Linked DNA regions of Homo sapiens: regions 1, 2 and 4 are each reported to be linked to region 3. The links are microRNA targets in miRTarBase. Many come from high-throughput screens and were not tested one by one. Region 3 holds a microRNA gene; each other region holds the end of a gene's coding sequence.

Evidence for each region. Region 3 holds the annotated microRNA hsa-miR-196a-5p (UAGGUAGUUUCAUGUUGUUGGG, at 2,822-2,843, shown strand). A microRNA usually pairs through its seed, bases 2 to 8, with sites in the 3' UTR of a target mRNA and lowers its output. Matches are read on the target gene's strand: a 7mer-m8 pairs with bases 2 to 8, a 7mer-A1 pairs with bases 2 to 7 and ends in A, and an 8mer does both.
Region 1: the mRNA of PROSER3 is a reported target of hsa-miR-196a-5p. The part of its 3' UTR that is shown has no 7-base or 8-base seed match.
Region 2: miRTarBase lists SCN11A as a target of hsa-miR-196a-5p. The part of its 3' UTR that is shown has no 7-base or 8-base seed match.
Region 4: the mRNA of NRXN1 is a reported target of hsa-miR-196a-5p. Seed matches in the 3' UTR shown: 7mer-A1 at 3,608-3,614.

The regions. Positions count from the first base shown.
Region 1 is chr19:35,768,114-35,773,098 of GRCh38, forward strand. It overlaps PROSER3 (proline and serine rich 3), which reads left to right. Exons shown (of 11, transcript NM_001367856.1): 10 at 42-123; 11 at 291-3,053. The coding sequence ends at 432. Among named protein-coding and RNA genes, the nearest start is that of ARHGAP33, 5.0 kb to the right of the region's middle.
Region 2 is chr3:38,842,661-38,847,732 of GRCh38, reverse strand. It overlaps SCN11A (sodium voltage-gated channel alpha subunit 11), which reads left to right. Exons shown (of 30, transcript NM_001349253.2): 30 at 1-1,969. The coding sequence ends at 1,039. Among named protein-coding and RNA genes, the nearest start is that of SCN10A, 29 kb to the right of the region's middle.
Region 3 is chr12:53,988,941-53,994,012 of GRCh38, forward strand. It overlaps MIR196A2 (microRNA 196a-2), which reads left to right and starts at 2,798; the gene lies at 2,798-2,907. HOXC10 (homeobox C10) reads left to right here. Exons shown (of 2, transcript NM_017409.4): 2 at 229-1,339. The coding sequence ends at 506.
Region 4 is chr2:49,917,954-49,923,025 of GRCh38, forward strand. NRXN1 (neurexin 1) reads right to left here. Exons shown (of 23, transcript NM_001330078.2): 23 at 550-4,298. The coding sequence ends at 3,991. Among named protein-coding and RNA genes, the nearest start is that of FSHR, 770 kb to the left of the region's middle.

The sequences.
Region 1 (4,985 bases), not on the chromosome of region 3:
AGGCCGGCCCCTTGGAGCTCATTCTTTTCTCCCCGGCCCAGACTCCGACGGCAGCGAGTTCCAGGACGATCCCGTGCTGCAGGTGCTAAGAGCCCATAGGGCAGAGCTGAGTCGGCAGAAAAGGTGACCGACCCTCCATCCCCAGAGTCTATGACACTGGGCCCCGGAGACCTCTGAGACCCGGTTAGGCATCCAGCCCTCCTCATCCCCTGTCCCAGCAGTCCGTCCACAGCCCCAGATTCTAAGCCTGAGCACATACCCCAGCCTCTGCTCTCCCGGCCTTTCTCCAGGGAAGCGGATGCCCGATTATCGTTCCTGTTGGACCAGGCTGAAGACCTGGGATCTTGGTCCCCTCCAGCCGGGTCGCCCCCTAGGTCCCCAAGGAGGCTGCTAAGAAGGGAAGGAGATTCCCTGGAGGCCAGAAGACTTTGAATTGTACAGATTCTATTTTACCCAGTGAGGCTCTTTTTTTTTTTTTCATACAGTTACTGGTTATCTGTGAGAAAGGGGTTGTTTGGAAAGGCCAAGGGGTCATGCCAATTTAAGGAAATGCCCCCCATCCTCCGCTGCCCCATGGCTCTGCCCTGCCCCCCACCCCTTCCTGACCACGGAAACAAGATCTCCTTTCTGGTTATATCTTCCTTGGGGCAGAGGGAGTTTCAGACAAGACTTCTGGCAAGACTGGGACCCACCTTATCTGGCTTCACTCAGGAGCCCTGGCTCAAATGGACCAAAGGACTGCCCTCCACGGAGGAAGCTACTAGGGTCATCAGAGTGTTGGATGATGGTCAGGCTATAGCCCACACATGCTTGAGCAGCAGCAGCATCTGGTGCAGCTGACCCCTCCCTCCTTGAAGCACTTTCTCTCCCTGCTTCCAGCCCTTCTCTCTGCACCTCTCTGGTCAGGCCTAGTCACTAGCCCAGCATGTCAACTTTGGCATGACCCAGGGCCATGGCGTTGACATCTCTATCTGCACCCACCCATAGGTGCTCTTGTCTAGCTTAATGACTCTAAACCCCGTCTCTATTCTGATAATCCTCAAATTTCTGTCTGTAACCTAGACCTGGCCACGAAACCTTGGGCTCCTACCTCATTACCATTTCTACCCAAGGGTTTAAAAGACATCTCAAATTCCATAGGTCCTAAATGGAGTTTCCAATCTTTCCCCCTAGGCGTGCCTCTCCCCAGCTTCTTTTTTTTTTTTTTTTTGGATGGAGTCTAGCTCTGTCACCCAGGCTGGAGTGCCATAGTGTGATCTCGGCTCACTGCAAGCTTCGCCTCCCGGGTTCACGCCATTCTCCTGCCTCAGCCTCCCGAGTAGCTGGGACTACAGGTGCCCGCCACCACGGTCGGCTAATTTTTTTTGTATTTTTAGTAGAGACGGGGTTTCACTGTGTTAGCCAGGATGGTCTTGGTCTCCTGACCTCGTGATCCACCCGCCTCGGCCTCCCAAAGTGCTGGGATTGCAGGCGTGAGCCACCGTGCTGGGCCCCCCCTCCCCAACTTTCTTCGGCTCTGTCCTTTGCCGCTCAGACCAAAAACCTTAGAGTTGTCTTTGACTTCTGTCTTTCCCTTCCACCCACAGTTAACCAGGAAATCCTGCCATCTCCGCCTTTATTTTATTTTATTTTTTGAGATGGAGTTTCACCCTTGTTGCCCAGGCTGTAGTACAATGGCATGATCTCGGCTCACGGCAACCTCCACCTCCCGGGTTCAAGCGATTCTCCTGCCTCAGCCTTCTGAGTAGCTGGGATTACAGGCACCTGCCACCACGCCCAGCTAATTTTCTTTGTTTGTTTGTTTGTTTTGAGACAGAGTCTTGCTCTGTCCCCCAGGCTGGAGGGCAGTGGCACGATCTCGGCTCACTGCAACCTCTGCCTTGCAGGTTCAAGCTATTCTTCTGCCTCAGCCTCCCTAGTAGCTGGGACTACAGGCGTGTGCCACCACGCCTGGCTAATTTTTGTATTTTTAGTAGAGACGGGGTTTCACCATATTGGCCAGGCTGGTCTCAAACTCATGACCTCGTGATCCTCCTGCCTCAGCCTCCCAAAGCGCTGGGATTACAGGCATGAGCCATCATGCCTGGCAATTTTTTGTATTTTTAGTAGAGACGAGGTTTCACCATGTTGGCCAGGCTGGTCTCGAACTCCTAACCTCAGGTGTCCCACCCACCTCAGCCTCCCAAAGTGCTAGGATTACAGATGTGAGCCACCGCACCTGGCCTCCACCTTTAAAATCTATCCAGAATTCAACTGCTTCTCCCCTTCTACTGCTCACACCTCAATCTAGGCTGTCATCACCTCCTCTCTGGACTGTTGGAAAACTTAACGGTTTTTATAAACCTGATATTCTTTGACACACTTGCCATCAAGAGGCAGAGTCTATGTCCCTTCATCTTGAAACTGGGCCCCTCAACAAATAAAATGCAGAGGAAGTGATGCAGCTTAACTTCTAAAGTGCAGTTAGAAAAGATGATTTCTCAGCTGGGCATGGTGGCTCACGCCTGTAATCCCAGCACTTTGGGAGGCTCAGGTGGGCAGATTACTTGAGGTCAGGGGTTCAAGACCAGCCTGGCCAACATGGTGAAATGTCTCTACTAAAAATACAAAAATTGGCCAGGCATTGGTGGTGGGTGCCTGTAATCCCAGCTACTCAGGAGGCTGAGGCAAGAGAATTGCTTGAACTCAGAAGGCAGAGGTTGCAGTGGAAAAAAAAAAAAAGATAATTTCTCTCTCTTTCTCTCTCTCTCTGACACTTGCTTTAGAGGCTACATTAAAAAAAAAAACTAGTTGCCATGCTGGGGAGGGGTTTGGGTTACACAGGTGTATGCACTTATGAAACTTAGTGAAGTGTGTGAATTTCATTGTATGTAAAGTTTACCTCAAAAGAAAATATTGAACGCCAGTTAAAGATACGCCTGTAATCTGACTTCTTTGGGAGGCCAAGGCGGGAGGATCACTTGAGGCCAGGAGTTTGAGACTACCCTGGGCAACACAGCAAGACCTGTCTCTACAAAAATAAATAAGTAAATAAATAGCCAGATGTGGTGGCACACGATTTGCAGTCCCATTACTAGGGGCGGGGAGGGGCGCTGAGGCAGGAGGTTTACTTGAGCCCAGGAGTTCAAGGCTGTATTGTAGTGAACTAAGATCATGCCACTGCACTCCAGCCTGGGCTACAGAGCTAGACCCTGTCTTTAAAAAAAAGAAAAGAAAAAAAAAAGTATGTACACTGAAATATTTAGGGAACAATAAACCAATGTCGACAATTTATTTTGAAATGCATCCAGAGATGAGTTGGATTGATGGATAAATAGTGTAATAGGTAGATGTGAGATAAAGCAAATACAGCAAAGTGTTCATGGTAGGATCTAAGTGGCGGATATGCGGGTGTCCACTGTAAAATTTTTCAACTTTGCTGTAATTTAGAAACTTTTCATGGCCGGGCGCGGTGACTCATGCCTGTAATCCCAGCACTTTGGGAGGCCAAGGCGGGCGGATCACGAGGTCAGGAGATCGAGACCATCCTGGCTAACACGGTGAAACCCCGTCTCTACTAAAAATACAAAAAATTAGCCGGGCGTGGTGGCGGGCGCCTGTAGCCCCAGCTACTCGGAAGGCTGAGGCAGGAGAATCACTTGAACCTGGGAGGCAGAGCTTGCAGTGAGCCGAGATTGCGCCACTGCACTCCAGCCTGGGTGACAGAGCGAGACTCCGTCTCAGAAAAGAAACTTTTCATAATAAAATGATGGAGAATATATGATTGGGGTTGTTTTGATATCTGCATTTACAAAATGGAGGGATAAGATGGATTTCTAGTAACTTCTGTATGTCACATGGTAAATATAATATTTGTTTTCAACCTTTCTTTCTTTCTTTTTTTTTTTTTTTTTTTTTGAGATGGAGTCTTGCTCTGTCACCCAGGCTGGAGTGTAGTGGTGCAACCTCGGCTCACTGTAACCTCTGCCTTCCAGGTTCAAGTGATTCTCCTTCCTCAGCTTTCCGAGTAGTTGAGATTATAGGTGCATGCCACCTCACCTGGCTAATTTGTGTGTGTGTGTGTGTTTTTAGTAGAGACAGGGTTTCACCATGTTGGTCTGGCTGGTCTCGAACTCCTGACCTCATGATCCACCTGCCCCGGCCTCCCAAAGTGCTGGGATTACAGGTGTGAGGCACCGCACCCGGCCTGTTTCTAACCTTTCTAAGCAAACCATACATTTAAATGAAATCAGAGTGGGCACAGTGGCACAGGCCTGTAATCTCAGCACTTTGGGAGGCCAAGGCGAGCAGATCACTTGAGGTCACGAGTTAGAGACCAGCCTGGGCAATATAGTGAAACTCTGTCTCCACTAAAAATTAGCTGGGCCTGGTGGCGGGTGCCTGTAGTCCCAGGTGCTCAGGAGGCTGAGGCAGGAGAATTGCTTGAACATGGGAGGCGGAGGCTGCAGTGAGTTGAGATGGTGCCACTGCACTTCAGCCTGGGCAACAGAGTGAGACTCCATCTCAAAAACAAACAAACTAACAAAAAAATGTAATTGACAAGAAAAATAGCTGTTTAGATATAAGGAGAAATAAAAGATACTATAGTAGCAGAACCTGATCTAGCTGGGTCACGGGTGGGGTCTAGAAGCATTCCTGAGGAAGTTACACTTAAGCTGAGACAGGTAGAAATTATCTAGTTAACAAAGGGCTGTCCTAATTACTCTAGTTGGATAACCGCTCCCAAAACTTAGTGGCATAAAACAATTATTTTATTATGCTCATGGATTCTGAGAGTCAGAGGTTTGGACAGGGCTCATATGGGGACAATTTTTGTCTCCTCCATGATGTCTGGGGATTCACCTGGAAAGACTCAAAGGTGACTTGATAGACTTGATGGCTGTGGAGTAGAATCCTCCAGAACTTCTTCCGTGGTCTTCTCCCAGTCTGACTGGGACTATTGACTAATGCCTATACATAGCTCCATTGGCCTGGGCTTCCTCAAA
Region 2 (5,072 bases), not on the chromosome of region 3:
TTCTACCTTGGAAAATCAGGAGCACATTCCTTTCCCTCCGACGCTCTTCAGAATTGTCCGCTTGGCTCGGATTGGCCGAATCCTGAGGCTTGTCCGGGCTGCACGAGGAATCAGGACTCTCCTCTTTGCTCTGATGATGTCGCTTCCTTCTCTGTTCAACATTGGTCTTCTACTCTTTCTGATTATGTTTATCTATGCCATTCTGGGTATGAACTGGTTTTCCAAAGTGAATCCAGAGTCTGGAATCGATGACATATTCAACTTCAAGACTTTTGCCAGCAGCATGCTCTGTCTCTTCCAGATAAGCACATCAGCAGGTTGGGATTCCCTGCTCAGCCCCATGCTGCGATCAAAAGAATCATGTAACTCTTCCTCAGAAAACTGCCACCTCCCTGGCATAGCCACATCCTACTTTGTCAGTTACATTATCATCTCCTTTCTCATTGTTGTCAACATGTACATTGCTGTGATTTTAGAGAACTTCAATACAGCCACTGAAGAAAGTGAGGACCCTTTGGGTGAAGATGACTTTGACATATTTTATGAAGTGTGGGAAAAGTTTGACCCAGAAGCAACACAATTTATCAAATATTCTGCCCTTTCTGACTTTGCTGATGCCTTGCCTGAGCCTTTGCGTGTCGCAAAGCCAAATAAATATCAATTTCTAGTAATGGACTTGCCCATGGTGAGTGAAGATCGCCTCCACTGCATGGATATTCTTTTCGCCTTCACCGCTAGGGTACTCGGTGGCTCTGATGGCCTAGATAGTATGAAAGCAATGATGGAAGAGAAGTTCATGGAAGCCAATCCTCTCAAGAAGTTGTATGAACCCATAGTCACCACCACCAAGAGAAAGGAAGAGGAAAGAGGTGCTGCTATTATTCAAAAGGCCTTTCGAAAGTACATGATGAAGGTGACCAAGGGTGACCAAGGTGACCAAAATGACTTGGAAAACGGGCCTCATTCACCACTCCAGACTCTTTGCAATGGAGACTTGTCTAGCTTTGGGGTGGCCAAGGGCAAGGTCCACTGTGACTGAGCCCTCACCTCCACGCCTACCTCATAGCTTCACAGCCTTGCCTTCAGCCTCTGAGCTCCAGGGGTCAGCAGCTTAGTGTATCAACAGGGAGTGGATTCACCAAATTAGCCATTCCATTTTCTTTTCTGGCTAAAATAAATGATATTTCAATTTCATTTTAAATAATACTTACAGAGATATAAGATAAGGCTACTTGACAACCAGTGGTACTATTATAATAAGGAAGAAGACACCAGGAAGGACTGTAAAAGGACATACCAATTTTAGGATTGAAATAGTTCAGGCCGGGCGCAGTGGCTCATGCCTGTAATCCCAGCACTTTGAGAGGCCAAGGCAGGTGGATCACGAGGTCAAGAGATCGAGACCATCCTGGCCAACATGATGAAACTCCGTCTCTACTAAAAATACAAAAATTAGCTGGGCATGGTGGCGTGCGCCTGTAGTCCCAGCTACTTGGGAGGCTGAGGCAGGAGAATCGCTTAAACCTGGGAGACGGAGGTTGCAGTGAGCCAAGATCGTGCCACTGCACTCCAGCCTGGTGACAGAGTGAGACTCTGTTTCAAAAAAGAAAAGAAAAGAAACATGGTTCAAATTATATCTAAACAAAAAAGAATAAGAAACAAAAAACACATTAAAATTTTAAGTTGTATTTTCTATGTTTCTAGATACATCATTTTTGTTTGATATTTTCCTGATGCAAGTATGTGGTTTATCACATGTAGCTCTTTTGCATGCTAAATGAAAATTCAAAACTTGCCAATAAATGAATAGCTTATTGCAGACATTTTTTACCAACATTAATTATTTTGGGTTTGTTTAAAACCTAGAGGCACAATCTTGACTTGTCAATTACTACCCTTTCACAAGCTACCATCTCAGATATATATATATATATAAATTCAATAAAGCTTTCTGTTTGTGTTCCTTTCAGGTAGTACACTAATATTCCCCTTTTGTTCAGTGGTTGTGTGAGTAGTGGTTTAAATGTGGTGCTTTGCTTGCAATTAAAGACTAGAACCAGTGGTGTATCTGACAAGTGTTTAACAACTGACTGTTCAGGAAAAAGAAAGCCATGCTTTATAGCATTCACTAATCTCTGTGGTGTGAGTACTCCCATTATGGCTGATTTCAAGCTATCAACATGTTACTGGACGTGGAGTTGAGAAGAGATGCTCATAATAAGTTCTTGAGAGCTGGCTCAAGCTGACTGCAGCACATCACTTGCTGAAACTGAAAAGAGAGCCCCACTTGGCTGGTTAAGATATTTGCAGTGGGCACCTTGGACAGAGAGAGTACCCTCTTAGCAACACGTGGGGCACGGGGTGAGAGATCCATAGACATACTGCTTAACCAGTGATCTTAGCCATTTGATGAGCCCTATTTACAGTTTTGGCTGAATGTCTGTTTCAAAGAAACACCCAGACCTATCAAAAGGGCTTGGGAGCAGGAGGAGCCCAGGAGTTCCCTAAAAACTGGAGATGCCAAGAGGTCAAACAGGCATTAGGCTTTCAGTCCCCCAAAAGGCTGGGCGAGGGGCAAAGAACCTACATTGTGATCATTGAGGAGTGGAGGAAAACCTCATAGAGATAGCCCTGGAACCCTGTATCTCAGACAGGTGAGAAGAACTGATGTGTCTGTCAGCAGCCTGGAGTCTGAGGTCGGGCCCTCTGACCTGCCCCACACTGCCCAGCAAAGGGAATGGCAGCACTGGATCCTGTGGTGGGCTGAGAGGTGATTATTTTCAGTGTGTAAGATCTTACCATGACTTGATGTATTCATTTCAAGGGCCTGAGTTTTGTAGGCAGCCTTGTGCTCTGAAGCATTGGTAAAAATAGTGATAATATCATTATCTAATATTTATTTAGTGGTTTCTGTGCATCAGGCACTGGCTAAGCATTTGTCATGAATGATCTCTTTTGTACCTCGTACCAACCCAATGAGGAAGATATACCCCATTTAAAAAGGAGAAAACTGAGGCTCAGAGAAGTTGAGTGACCTGCATACAGTCATGCACCTGGTGGAGCCCGAGCCTGTGTGCCATGATGGGAAGGGGAAGTGGGTGGGCTCAGGACCAGGGAAGCTTTGAGATGGGCTACCAGGGCTCCTGTGCAGGACTGGGAGGGCCTTGTGGAAATCACTAGTTACAAAGTCATGGCCACATTCTCCTTGAGGTACTGGAAGTAACCTATGGCTCCTTTAAAAGAAGCTCTGATTATGAACCTTAGGTGTTTTATAGATTCCCTATCAAGTTTCTAAAAAAAAAAAAAAGATGGCTCGTCATCATTTCAAGAAGGGTACCTTTTGGCTAGAGGTAGGGGGAGGATCTGGAAGGACATGGTCTTGCCCATTCCAGACTGCCATGCAGGAGCTTGAATGTGATCTGTTTTGTATAGAAGCTTCACCCTCAGAATATGTGGAACAAAATAAAAATAATAATAAAACAGGCTTCACCCTCCTCCCTTCCATGCACACCTGTATACCCTGACATGCTTCTGTTTAACCAGGGCTGGTTTCCAGGGGCCACCTCCTAGGGAGAAAACAAGATCTGCTTAGCTTTATCAAAAGGTTGGACCACTCTACCTTCACTAGATGGCAGCAAATGTCCAACATGTTCTTTTCGGAGAGGGCTGCACATCATCTGTACACAGGCCTGGCACTTAGAAAGCCATAGGGTTGAAGGGAGAAGAGCCCAGGCAGGATATGGTGAATTATCTAAACCCTGGATGGGTGATAGAAAGCTCATAGTAATATCCCTAGAAATATTGCTCACTGCGAGAGGATCCAGGACACCCTCAGGAGGCAGAGATGTTGGTGTGAGCTCTGTTTCCCTGGGACATACTGAGTTTCCACTGCAAACAGCCCTCCAGGCACATGAATCCAGTCCCCTTATTCTCTGAGTTTTCTTTACTCTAGGTAGATCAGCCCCCGTGCAATTCATCTGGCAGACATGTTCCAAGGATGAATGCAGTGTATTTTGTGTAAACTGCTTCTAACCAAATAGACTATAGGACTATAGTCTCAAGAGCATATTTGCTCTTTGGCAGGAGAATTGGATGAGTGTCCATGCAATAATAATGCAATACAACATAACAAGTGTAATAAACCAGAAACATGCCTCTGCTCTGAGGACATGAATGAAGCAAGCTCACAGAAAGACCTCCTGAGAGAGGAGCATCTGAGATGGATGCGCTTGACAGGTATGTAGGATTTTGACAGGTGAACCTGGTTTTGGAGGGTGTTTGAAGTCGGGGAGACAGTACAGGCAGCTCAATGGCAACTAGAAAGTGTGAGGAAGTATGAATTACCCAACTGACTGGACATGGAGTATAGGGAGTGGAGCAGCAGCAACTGAATCTTAGACACAGACATTTGTGGAGAGCCTCAAATGCCAGAGTGAGGAGTTCTAGCGTATTTTGATAATAAGAAGGCATTGAAGGTGTTTTAGCAGGGAAGAAAAATAACTGGATAGAATGTGCAAGGTGGAATGGAGAAAAACAAGGTCTGATCCTGGTAGGGAAGAGGCACTGAGCCAGGAAGGAGGTGAGGGCAATGCGGTGTGATTCCAAGATGCTTGTGCCAGCTGCCTGACCATGAGGGAGGACAAGATAGATGACAGTAAAGGGTACTAAGTTAATAGCATAGGAGGAGCAAGGGTTGGAGTTTGTTTGTTTGTTTTAATGGCTGAGGAAGAACATCTAAAATGTAATTCAATTTTAAATATTTTGAAAGTTTAAGATGTCAGGTCTAACTGACAATGCCCAGCCAAGACTTGAACTTGAGGACAAGGTGTGGACAGGAGTCTTCGGTGCAAAGGTGATGTCTGAAACCCCAGGAGCAGACATCATGGGAGAGAGAGAGTACACCCAGCTCTAGAAGCAGGCAAGGGACTTGCCCTGAGGGTATGTTTTCAGGGAATGAAGGTGAAGAGGAGTGAGACAGTTCAGAGAAGAATGTGGGGTAGTAGGTGACAGTAAATACCATGACATGTAATGTGAGAACAGAGCAGGCTTCCTTGGAGAAATTGGGTCAACAA
Region 3 (5,072 bases):
TAATAAATGCTTGGAGGCAAGAACTTCCTCCCTTTATCTCCCTAAGTCTAAACCCCAAAGAAATTGTAAGAACCTTGAGCCTAAGAGGAGCCCACCGCCAGGCCCCTGGGGCAAGAGCAGCTCCCCTGTGCTCCCTCAGCCACCCCACAGCAGGCTGGCAAAGGCTGCAGCGCTGAGAGGGTTTTCGACTTCGAGGGATACTTATGTAAATAATGTTATTTTTAACAGAGGAGATAAAGGCAGAAAACACCACAGGAAATTGGCTGACAGCAAAGAGCGGAAGGAAGAAGAGGTGCCCCTATACTAAACACCAGACGCTGGAATTGGAGAAAGAATTTCTGTTCAATATGTATTTGACGCGAGAGCGCCGCCTGGAGATTAGCAAGACCATTAACCTTACAGACAGACAAGTCAAAATCTGGTTTCAAAATCGCAGAATGAAACTCAAGAAAATGAACCGAGAGAATCGGATCCGGGAACTGACCTCCAATTTTAATTTCACCTGAGAGCGCGGCCTCTCCTCCTCCCTTCCCGCTCCTTCCTCTCCCCGCCCCTCCTCCCTTTGTGCCTGGTGATATATTTTTTTTTCCTCCCTGAGTATAAATGCAATGCGACTGCAAAAAAGGCAAAGACCTCAGACTCTCCTTCCAAGGGACCTGTGGTTCGTGCTGCGAAGATGCTTCCACTTAAAGCATGAGAAATGGGGTGCCGGGATGTGGGGTGTGGTGTGTGCCCTCATAGATGGGGGTGGGAGTGTGGCTGGTGTGTGTGTCAAGCCCTCACTCACCCACGCACTCACACACAGCATTCTGTTCTCCATGCAAAGTTAAGATCGAATCCATCCGCTTGTAGGGGAAAAAAAGGAAAAAAATTAACCAGAGAGGGTCTGTAATCTCGCAGAGCACAGGCAGAATCGTTCCTTCCTTGCTGCATTTCCTCCTTAGACTAATAGACGTTTTGGAAAGTTCGGCTAGTGTTCGTGTGTTTGTCGTAGCACCCAGAGCCTCCACCAAACCCTCTCCATGTCTTTACCTCCCAGTCGCTCTAAGAATCTGCTTGAAGTCTCGTATTTGTACTGCTTTCTGCTTTTCTCCCACCCCTCCTAGCACCCCCACATCCCCCATCTAGTAACATCTCAGAAATTTCATCCAGAGGAACAAAAAAATTAAAAATAGAACATAGCAAAGCAAAGACAGAATGCCCCCCCCCCCAAATATTGTCCTGTCCCTGTCTGGGAGTTGTGTTATTTAAAGATATTCTGTATGTTGTATCTTTTGCATGTAGCTTCCTTAATGGAGAAAAAAAAACCTAATAAATTTCCAGAATCATAATCCTCAAATGGATGGTTTTTTGTTTTTAGTGATTTTTAGCAACACCCCTCCCCCGAAGAGGCTGAGTGTGTGGATGTGTGTGTTTTGTGTTTGACTCATCTCCTAGAGCCTTTCTAGAACGTCTCTTGGCGGGTTTAATGTAAGTGAGAGACCATAACGTTGATTTAAATATTATCCAGGTGACCACAATAAGTCAAGGTCATAAAACAGTAATGTCAGGACGGTCTTGGTGCGCGCGAGAGGTGGATTTTATGATCTGCAAATATAATGTGGTGCTGCAGTAAAAGATGCATTTAAAGGTGACTGGAGGAGGGAAAGAGGCAGAGAGCAAGCTGCAATCTTGAGGAGCAGACGGATCTGATTGCCTGGGGTGCTGGGCTGGGCGCACCCCACTGCTGCTGGGGGTCACCCCAAGAGCCCCCCACCCATCCAAGGAAAGGAATAAACTTAACCGCTGGAGGGGCATGAGGAGCTCAGCCCCCCCAACCTCGACAGCAGCTAACAGAAACGCCAGGAGCAGCAGGAGGAGGAGGCAGCGACAAGGTAAGAGAAGCGGTTTCTTGTTCTTCTCTTGGCGGCGGAGTGGGGATGAGCGGTGTCCCCAGGTGTCCGGCGTGCAGCGGACAGAGCCTGGAGGAAGGTGTTTAGGGCATCCGTGCTTGCCGAGAACCCAGGCTTTCCTAGTGGCCGCTGGCAGCGGAGGGCAGCGACTGGGAGCTCCCTCTCCTTCCCTCCCGGGCCCATTGCCATGGGGGTTCCACAGTTAAAGGGATAAATTGATGGTTTTTGGCTTCTTTATCTTTTCGGGCACTTTGGGTCTCCTCGAAGTCGACACTCTGGTCTAGGTGTTGCTCAGTCTGGTCGTCTGTTGGTGGGGGAGGAGGAGTACAGAGGGTTGAAGCTTGAAGCTTAGGTTTTCCTGCTTTTCGCTGGTTTGGATGTGAGCCTCGTCCAGCCTCTTGTTCCCTGTGCTCCCTGGCTGTAACGTTTTGCCAGGCAAGTGGCCTGATTGGAAGTGGCTCCAGAGCACAGGGCTATGATTCAGCTACCCACATTCGCTGAGAAGCCTAAACCGAGCTGAGAGGGAGAGGATCAGAGGGAGTCTAGCAGGAGAGTGCAGGAGAGCCAGATGGACAAGACAGGGGACCCAGCTCCAGAGTGGAAGGAAGATCCAGCTTCCCCCAGGGCCAGGGCCAGATGCAGGGGAATAGCTCCACTGCGGTGCTGGGGGTGGGGCAGGTATTTGGCCGCCAGTGGTCCCATTTCACCAGATTTTTCCTGAGCAATTTGCTTAGACCAGAAACTAATGAAGGCAGTCAGACCCCTTACCCACCCAGCAACCCAAAGTCTACTCTCTAGTCCTTAGGGAGGTTGTGGGGGCGGAAAGGGGGACGGGGCTGAATTTCTTCCTTCCCCAACCCCCTTCCCTTCTCCTCCAGATAGATGCAAAGCTGAATCTCCCGCCCTGCTCGCTCAGCTGATCTGTGGCTTAGGTAGTTTCATGTTGTTGGGATTGAGTTTTGAACTCGGCAACAAGAAACTGCCTGAGTTACATCAGTCGGTTTTCGTCGAGGGCCCCAACCCACCTCTCCCACTCCTACCCTCCCCAGTGGGACTGCCCCACTGCCCCCTCCCAGATAGGGCAAAGTGGGTGCAGACCAAGGAGGACAAGCTGTGAGTGGGGTTGCAGAACAAGTCTGGAGAACCCTGCTTTATGCCGTCCTCTCAACCTATCCCAATCCCTGTGATTAAGGGAGAGGAGTCTTTCCTGCAGCTATTGTCTCCTGGGCCCAGCTGATGGAGACAGACAAAGAGGGTCCAGCCAATTCCAAGGAAATTCAGGAGTTTGAGTAAGAGGTGGCCTGGCGGGCCAGCTCAGTTGGGCAGCAGGGTGGGGCAGAATTATTAGCAGAAAGAGGAGCACAGAAAGAGAAGACGGTCTCTGGAATGGTTAGCCTCTCCCACCTACCACCTCCAGTCGACTGGGGCTCAAGATTCTCCTTAGAAAAGTGGGGTACCTGGAGGTTCCAAGAGTTGGGGAACTCTGAGCGCCAGCCCAGCCCTTTCCCCTTCCCCTTCTATAGCTCCATCTCCAGGGGAAGGACATGTTTGGGGTGTTGGTAGGTTAGAGGAAAGCCATCAAAGTCCAAGTAGAACCCCTCACACACGCACACGCACGCAACTGGGAAACATCAGGGCAAAAACCTGACTCTGGTCTCTGTTTAGTCGTCTGTGGCCTGAAGGCCTCAGTTTCTGTGGCTGTGACTGTCAGGCAGCTGCCTGTCTTTGCACTATGTGGAAACATCTGGGTGAACAGAGGCTGCCCGTGCCCACCATTGCTATGTTGGTGGAAAGGTTGTTGGCTGATGCCAGGGGGAGGAGGGGAGGAGAATGGGGTAGAGGAAAATCTGAGCAGTGTGAAACTTTGCAAAGCTTCCTCTCATCCTTTCCCCCTTGGTTCTTCAATTCTGGCCCTGGTTGCTACAGAGAAAGTTCTCAAAAGAGGTTTCTTTGCCTGCCTGCGGGCGGAGTTGGGGGGGGGGGAATAAATGGGGGAGGGGTTATGGAGACTGAGGAGATACACCCCTGTTCTCAGAGATACTGGGGAAGAGAAGCCAAAAGAAGGTCAGGTTCTTGGTTCTCTTACTTTGAAATTATTATGATTATTAAAACATTATAAACGTCTAGACAGGGAAACAAAATTATGTCCCTGTAACAAAATATATACAGAGTTCTATATTCTCACAGTCATCTGCTGGGAGGGATATATGTGACCTTGTATGAGTGTAGGGCTCTGTTTCTGTCTCCCCTAGGCTCTCTTAAATACCCTGTATGTATTTATACGCATACACATTTATTTTTCCCCTCTCTTATGCGAACATATTTGTTTTGACTCCCAAGGAAGCTGGAGGAGAAAATGGGAATAGAATTTCCTGTCTCCCTAGCTGGATTGTTGGTCTGTCTGTCCCCCATCCCTTTGTGAGAGAAAAAATTTCTTCTCTTGGAGAGAAGTATTCAAACCTCTCTATGGCTCCCAGGGAAATGGGGAAGTTTCCAGAGAGTCAGGCCAGCTGGTGGGAAGCAGGCAAGGGATTCCCCTAGTTTGGGAGCTCCTAGCAGCCTTTGAGTCTTCAGGCTGCCCCAGGCACACAGTCAGTTGGGGCAAAGCGTGTCCCAGGCAGGGACTGGGTGCTCAGGAGCATTTGGCTTGGAGATAGAGTCCCTGATGGGCCGAAATTCACTAATGAACGACTTCTGTGCTTTGGGTCTCTGTGCCCCCATTTCCGTTTCAGAGCTGTTGGGCTTATGTGTGGGAGGTCAGAGAGCCAGGGGTTGAGGTGTCTCCTCCCCAAATGCAGAGAAATGGAGCGAGGTCTCATAGGGCCAAGGTGAGGACCAGTCTGGTGGTCAGAGTCCACCCCCGGCACAAGGCCGTGGATCATGGCTAAGGCGATGGTAATTATTTATTCCCTTCGCCGGAAGGGAGTCTTCAGAAGGAACAGCGTGAAGAGAAGAGAAAAAATTATCTCTCTCGTCTGTGGATATTAAGATGGATTTTTATTTCTTAAAGGACCCTCCCCGCCGAGAGCGCATAAGCGTAAACTTAATATATGCTCCGCAGCCCAACTCCAGAAATCGCAATAAAAGTTAAAACCTCCCCTACTGTTTTTTTTTTAATTATGATATGGGAAAGAGGAGCAGGATTTATAGAGCTGAACTCTCAGTGTATGAATGTTTGAG
Region 4 (5,072 bases), not on the chromosome of region 3:
TTATTGTACATATAAGTTAGTAACCCCTGATGCCTAATCACTGGGCCCTGGGCATCTATGCCCTCTATAGGTTAAGACCCAAAATCCTTGGTCTGATTACTAAGTTTTATATAGCAACCGCCTTTGAAGTGCCTACCTATTTTTAAGGGAAACTAAATTATATATCCTTTAATTTAGACATTAACAAAATGTGGATTGTCATGAATTAATAGCAATAAAGAAATAACAAATATATCTAGACACTGCAGGAACAAAACGAATTAAGCATTCATGTTCAGACTTTTTACTGTTGAAGAAAAAAAGTGCATTTTCATCATAAAATCATTTTCAAGTGCCAGGGTTTTAAAACAACAGTTTCCAACTGTTGAACTAAAACTTACTTACTCTGATAAATCATCTGATTTCTAAAAAGCTAATTTTCTTTGTAAGAAATAAATACAGTTTTATGGAAACAAACACTACGTTCTTTTATATATTTAGATTTGTTTGTTTTTTTCCAAATAAATAACACAATGTGAGAGTCAAAGAAATTAGGCAAATAGTAACGAGTATGTGATAGTGTTGGAATTTAATCACAGGTTTACTTAACTTGGATTCCATTGTCTTTTATAGAGAAAAAGCATATTTATGAAATTAGTATTTTAATATTGTTTGCAACTAATACTGTATGAGTTTATGGTTTCTGGCATATCAAGATGAACAAATATAACAAAAGTACATTTAATGGCTACATCTTTAAGTGTATGAATATAGAGGTCTTTAATGACTAGTTAAATCCAGAAAAAAGAGAGTCAACATTCTTCCTCTATAATATAAGGATGGGTCTTCCCTTCAAATGCAGCCTTCTTTACTTTCCCACTTAAGCACGAAATGGTGCCGCATATAATTTTTAAAATCAATAAATCACAGTTGTATTAAGAAATATTTTATTAACAAAACAGTAAATTCCACTTGCTTAGCATTTCCAATAATGGATAAATTGGCCTTGCAACAGAAAAACAAACAAACAAAAAAAGAAGAAGAAAACCCCTTTGATACCCAATCACACAAAGCACTAGAAGGGTAGGGTTATGTGGCCTTTCTTTGATGTCTTAGGGATTGACCACTTCACACGTTATTGTAGTATTTGTTCTTTTAAAAAAGGCAACACATTACATGGATAAAAAAGAAGCATAATCAATCAGAAAAGTTACAGTCTAGAGATGTAATCAAATTTATGCCAAGTCGTGTGAAATCCTCAATCAACTGCAAACTATGCAGGGAACCCTGATATGTTTGGTATGAAGATACTTGGGATTCAAGTCATTTTCTCTTTCTAACTCTGTTCCTCTCTTTTCTTTTTCCATTGAGGAAAAAATAATTTTTGCTAGAGTTTGTGTAAGCCAATAATATTAGAAATAATTTTGCTGATAATAAACTATATCAATCATTGCATGTAACTTTAAAATTTACGCTGGGGAGAAACATTGAAATCAATCCCAAACAACACATTTCATAGATATACTGCTTAAAATTACCATTATTCAATTTATTTTCTATTATATTTTAGAATCTTTCCAGATGGAAACTGGTTCAAGCTTAATAGATAAAATAGAAAAGCAATCTTAAAAAAAAAAACCCTTCAAGCTGTAAATTAGTAGTTTTACACTTCCCTTCTTATTTAACTGGCTTTCCCTGAGTAAGACTGAATGAGACGGGGGAAAAGAAAAGACTCGTGAATTATTTAATGTGGCAAATTAAAAAAAATGAAAATCTAGAAAAGAAGCAATGGATATTAAATTTTCATTTTATACCTTCTACTTTCTGGGTCATAAAAAGCCACTAAATTTCTTTGTACACAACAATTACTTGGCAACCATAGATAGTGGTGATTTGCTATGAATTATACATATTTCTAAGGTGCTGTATGTCTGAAATCCAGGCCACTTCTTGGCTTTTTTTTCATCAACTAAAGTATCACAAAAGATGTTTTGCATTTTTTGCCTTTGCTGATTAAAGCTAATTGGAAAGATATTCTTCTCTTCTACAAAATTTTTTATCGTTCTTTTAGAAGGTATTCAAGTAATGCAACCAATTTTTCCTGAAACATCAACTTGCAATGTAATAATGCATTTTTTGCACTACCTTCTCATATTAGTAATTTATTGCTGTGAACATCATTGAATAATATGCAAAACAAGTGTATAATCTATACTTTTCCACTACTTAATGTGTTAAACTAAAACTATATTTAATGATATATATGTAAAACCAGAAAAGTTAAAACATAGTCAATAATTAACAGAGAATGATTTTTTAAGTGGGTAGTAATACAGAATCAAAAATTACTGAAAAATACTTTCTTAGTCGAGAGAAAGTGTTTACTTTCCAGAAATGTTCATCATGCACATCAGATTCAGAGATATATATATTATTTTATTAGAAAGAAAGTTTTCAATTGCAGCAGCCAGAGTTAAGGTGTAGATTAACCAATTTTGCTTCCATAACCTGCCCACATAATGGTTCTTATTCATGCAGCAGTATATCAGTGATATTCTATTTGATAAGGAAAGGTTCATTTCTTTAGGGACTAAAATCTTCTTAAGGTTACCTGGGAGCAAGATCTCAATGAAGCAAATCACCCCATTTGTCATCAATACCTTGGCACAACCCTCTTCCTTCCTGCTTTTCAATTTGTCAATAAATATTTGCTACTGTATGCACGTTTGGATCTTCCAGCATATCTGATGGATTGCTGTGGATTCGTGTGTGTGTGTGTGTGTGTGTGTGTGTGTGTGTGTGTGTGTGTGTGAAAATAGTGAATGTATGTGGGAATGTGAGTATTTCAGGGAGAAAAGATTATAAGATACATATGTATATATGTGACTTTCTAATTCACACCTTTCATACAAGTACTAAAACTTAATTGCAACAGAATGAAGGCTGTACATATAAGAAAAGAAGTAGCTGAGTCTTTGTATATACATTCATACATATCTTCCTTAGAATAAACACTACACTGTAATTTCTTTAAAAAATAAAAGTAATTGTGGCAATTTATAATGGTGGCAAAAAAAAAGAAAAACCCAACTGAAATAATTGTTGCTCTGATGTCATAAAACTCCCTATACTTAGCAACACTTATAACATTGAATTTACCAAAAATGGCTGAAGAGCAGAGATATATTTTGCATTTTCTATACAACAGGCTATAAAACGTCACTTATCACAGTCCAGAAAGCACACAGAGATGGATTTTATATAAACATATGTAATAACATAATAAGCGTGCATGAAAATTTCCCAATGATTGCATCTATGCCCTCTTGTTTTTGTTTTGAAATTTTGTGTGAAAACGTGCCTTATATTTCACATTTTTGAAAATAAGGCCTCCATACTTTTTTTTCCTCTCTCACAACCAGAAAGGGGCTTTTTGAATGTGTTCCTACACAAGTCTTCAAAAAAGCCAGCACTTTGTTTCAAATGCAAGTTCCAACCACTGCTCCAGTTGCACCAGGCGGCAAACTCTTAAAGGTTTGCAGGTTGAGTCACTCAAAAGGACAGTCTTCTCTGGCAATTGGACTGACTTCTCAGGAAAGCGCTAGCACTTTGGCTAAATCCAGGATCATAGGTAGCTTCTTTTTTGTGTTATGTTTTGTGTTGGTTTTTGTGTTGTGCCTTGATGCTGTAGTACTCCTTTGCTTTATGAATGCGTGCGGTCATCACTGTCTTTTAGAAATGTTCCAGCAACATAAAGACAAGCAGAGTAAATGAAAACACTGTGGATGTTAGGGAATTTATTGGCCCCTGTTTTTTGTTTTTTGTTTTTCTTTTTTGAGAAACAAGAGCATGAGATACTTGTTTTTATTTTTTAAAAAGTCTTTCCTTCCTGATTGCATTCCCTGTCTTCTTTTGTATGTGCTTCATAAAAAGGAAAGTAAATAAGTTTATATTATGTCTCAGATAAAATGAAGACTATTTCTATACAAGTGTCCATTTAAGATCTTGGGATCAGACATAATACTCTTTATCCTTGTTTTTCTTATTTTTGTTGGAGCTTTTCGCACTGCTGGGTTGTTTCTCCTTTACAACAGCCCCATTGGACTGTGCTGAGTTACTGATGTAGTTTCGACTCTCGTCCACATGGTATGAGCCTTCATCCCGGTTTCTGTACTTGTACATGGCATAGAGGAGGATAAGGATGCACAGGGCGGCAGCGGCTACTATCCCAACGACCATACCCGTGGTGCTGCTGGACTCCCGGATCACTTCTGCTGAGCCTGGATACGGCTCTCTGCCGCCTGCTCGGGTTGGGTTGGCTATAGAAAAGAGGATGAGAACAAACACAAAGTGATCATTGAGTTCACTGAATACCAGAGAGCTATATTAACATTTATTATCTAATTCTAACAGCACCTATGCTTTAGGAAAGGTATGCTATTGATAAATGTAGCCATCCCTTTGCCTCATGGTTACTAAAAACTAGGGACTGTGATTTAAAGTTCTCTGGGAGATTTGTTGCTGTGTCTTCTTTCTTCACAAATCAATTTTGTTCACAGAGTTTGGTAAGCATTGTCCCAAATAAACTCCAATTAGCTCTAAAGGGCCATGTGGGTGACTTAAGTAAAAAAAACCCACAAACCCAGCATAAAGAAAAGCAGAACAGCCCTACCCTATAATACTAGAGGGAATCATAAGAATCAAATAGGTGTTGCTCTAGAACATAGGTCTAACTCTAGACTGAATCAGGACAACTAAATTTAGGATTACTTTAGAAATCATATTCCCCTTGTATTTTAAAGAATACAGTATTGAACAATAAGATAATCCATACATTTTAACTGTCTGCTTTTTAAAGTATAACTTTAGTTACATTTTTATAAATAAAAATAGACTAATTTCCATTTTGTTGGAGATTCATTTGTTTACATAAGTATGTGTGTATTTTATTAATTGATTGGGGAGCTCCCAAGATGAACTTTGGAGGAGAAAGTAATAAAATATTCTTTCTCAGTTTTAAATACAGTCTAGATTGATTTTTTGGTCAAAACTCTGAACTACCTAATAGATTAGATAATAATAGAAGGCTGGCT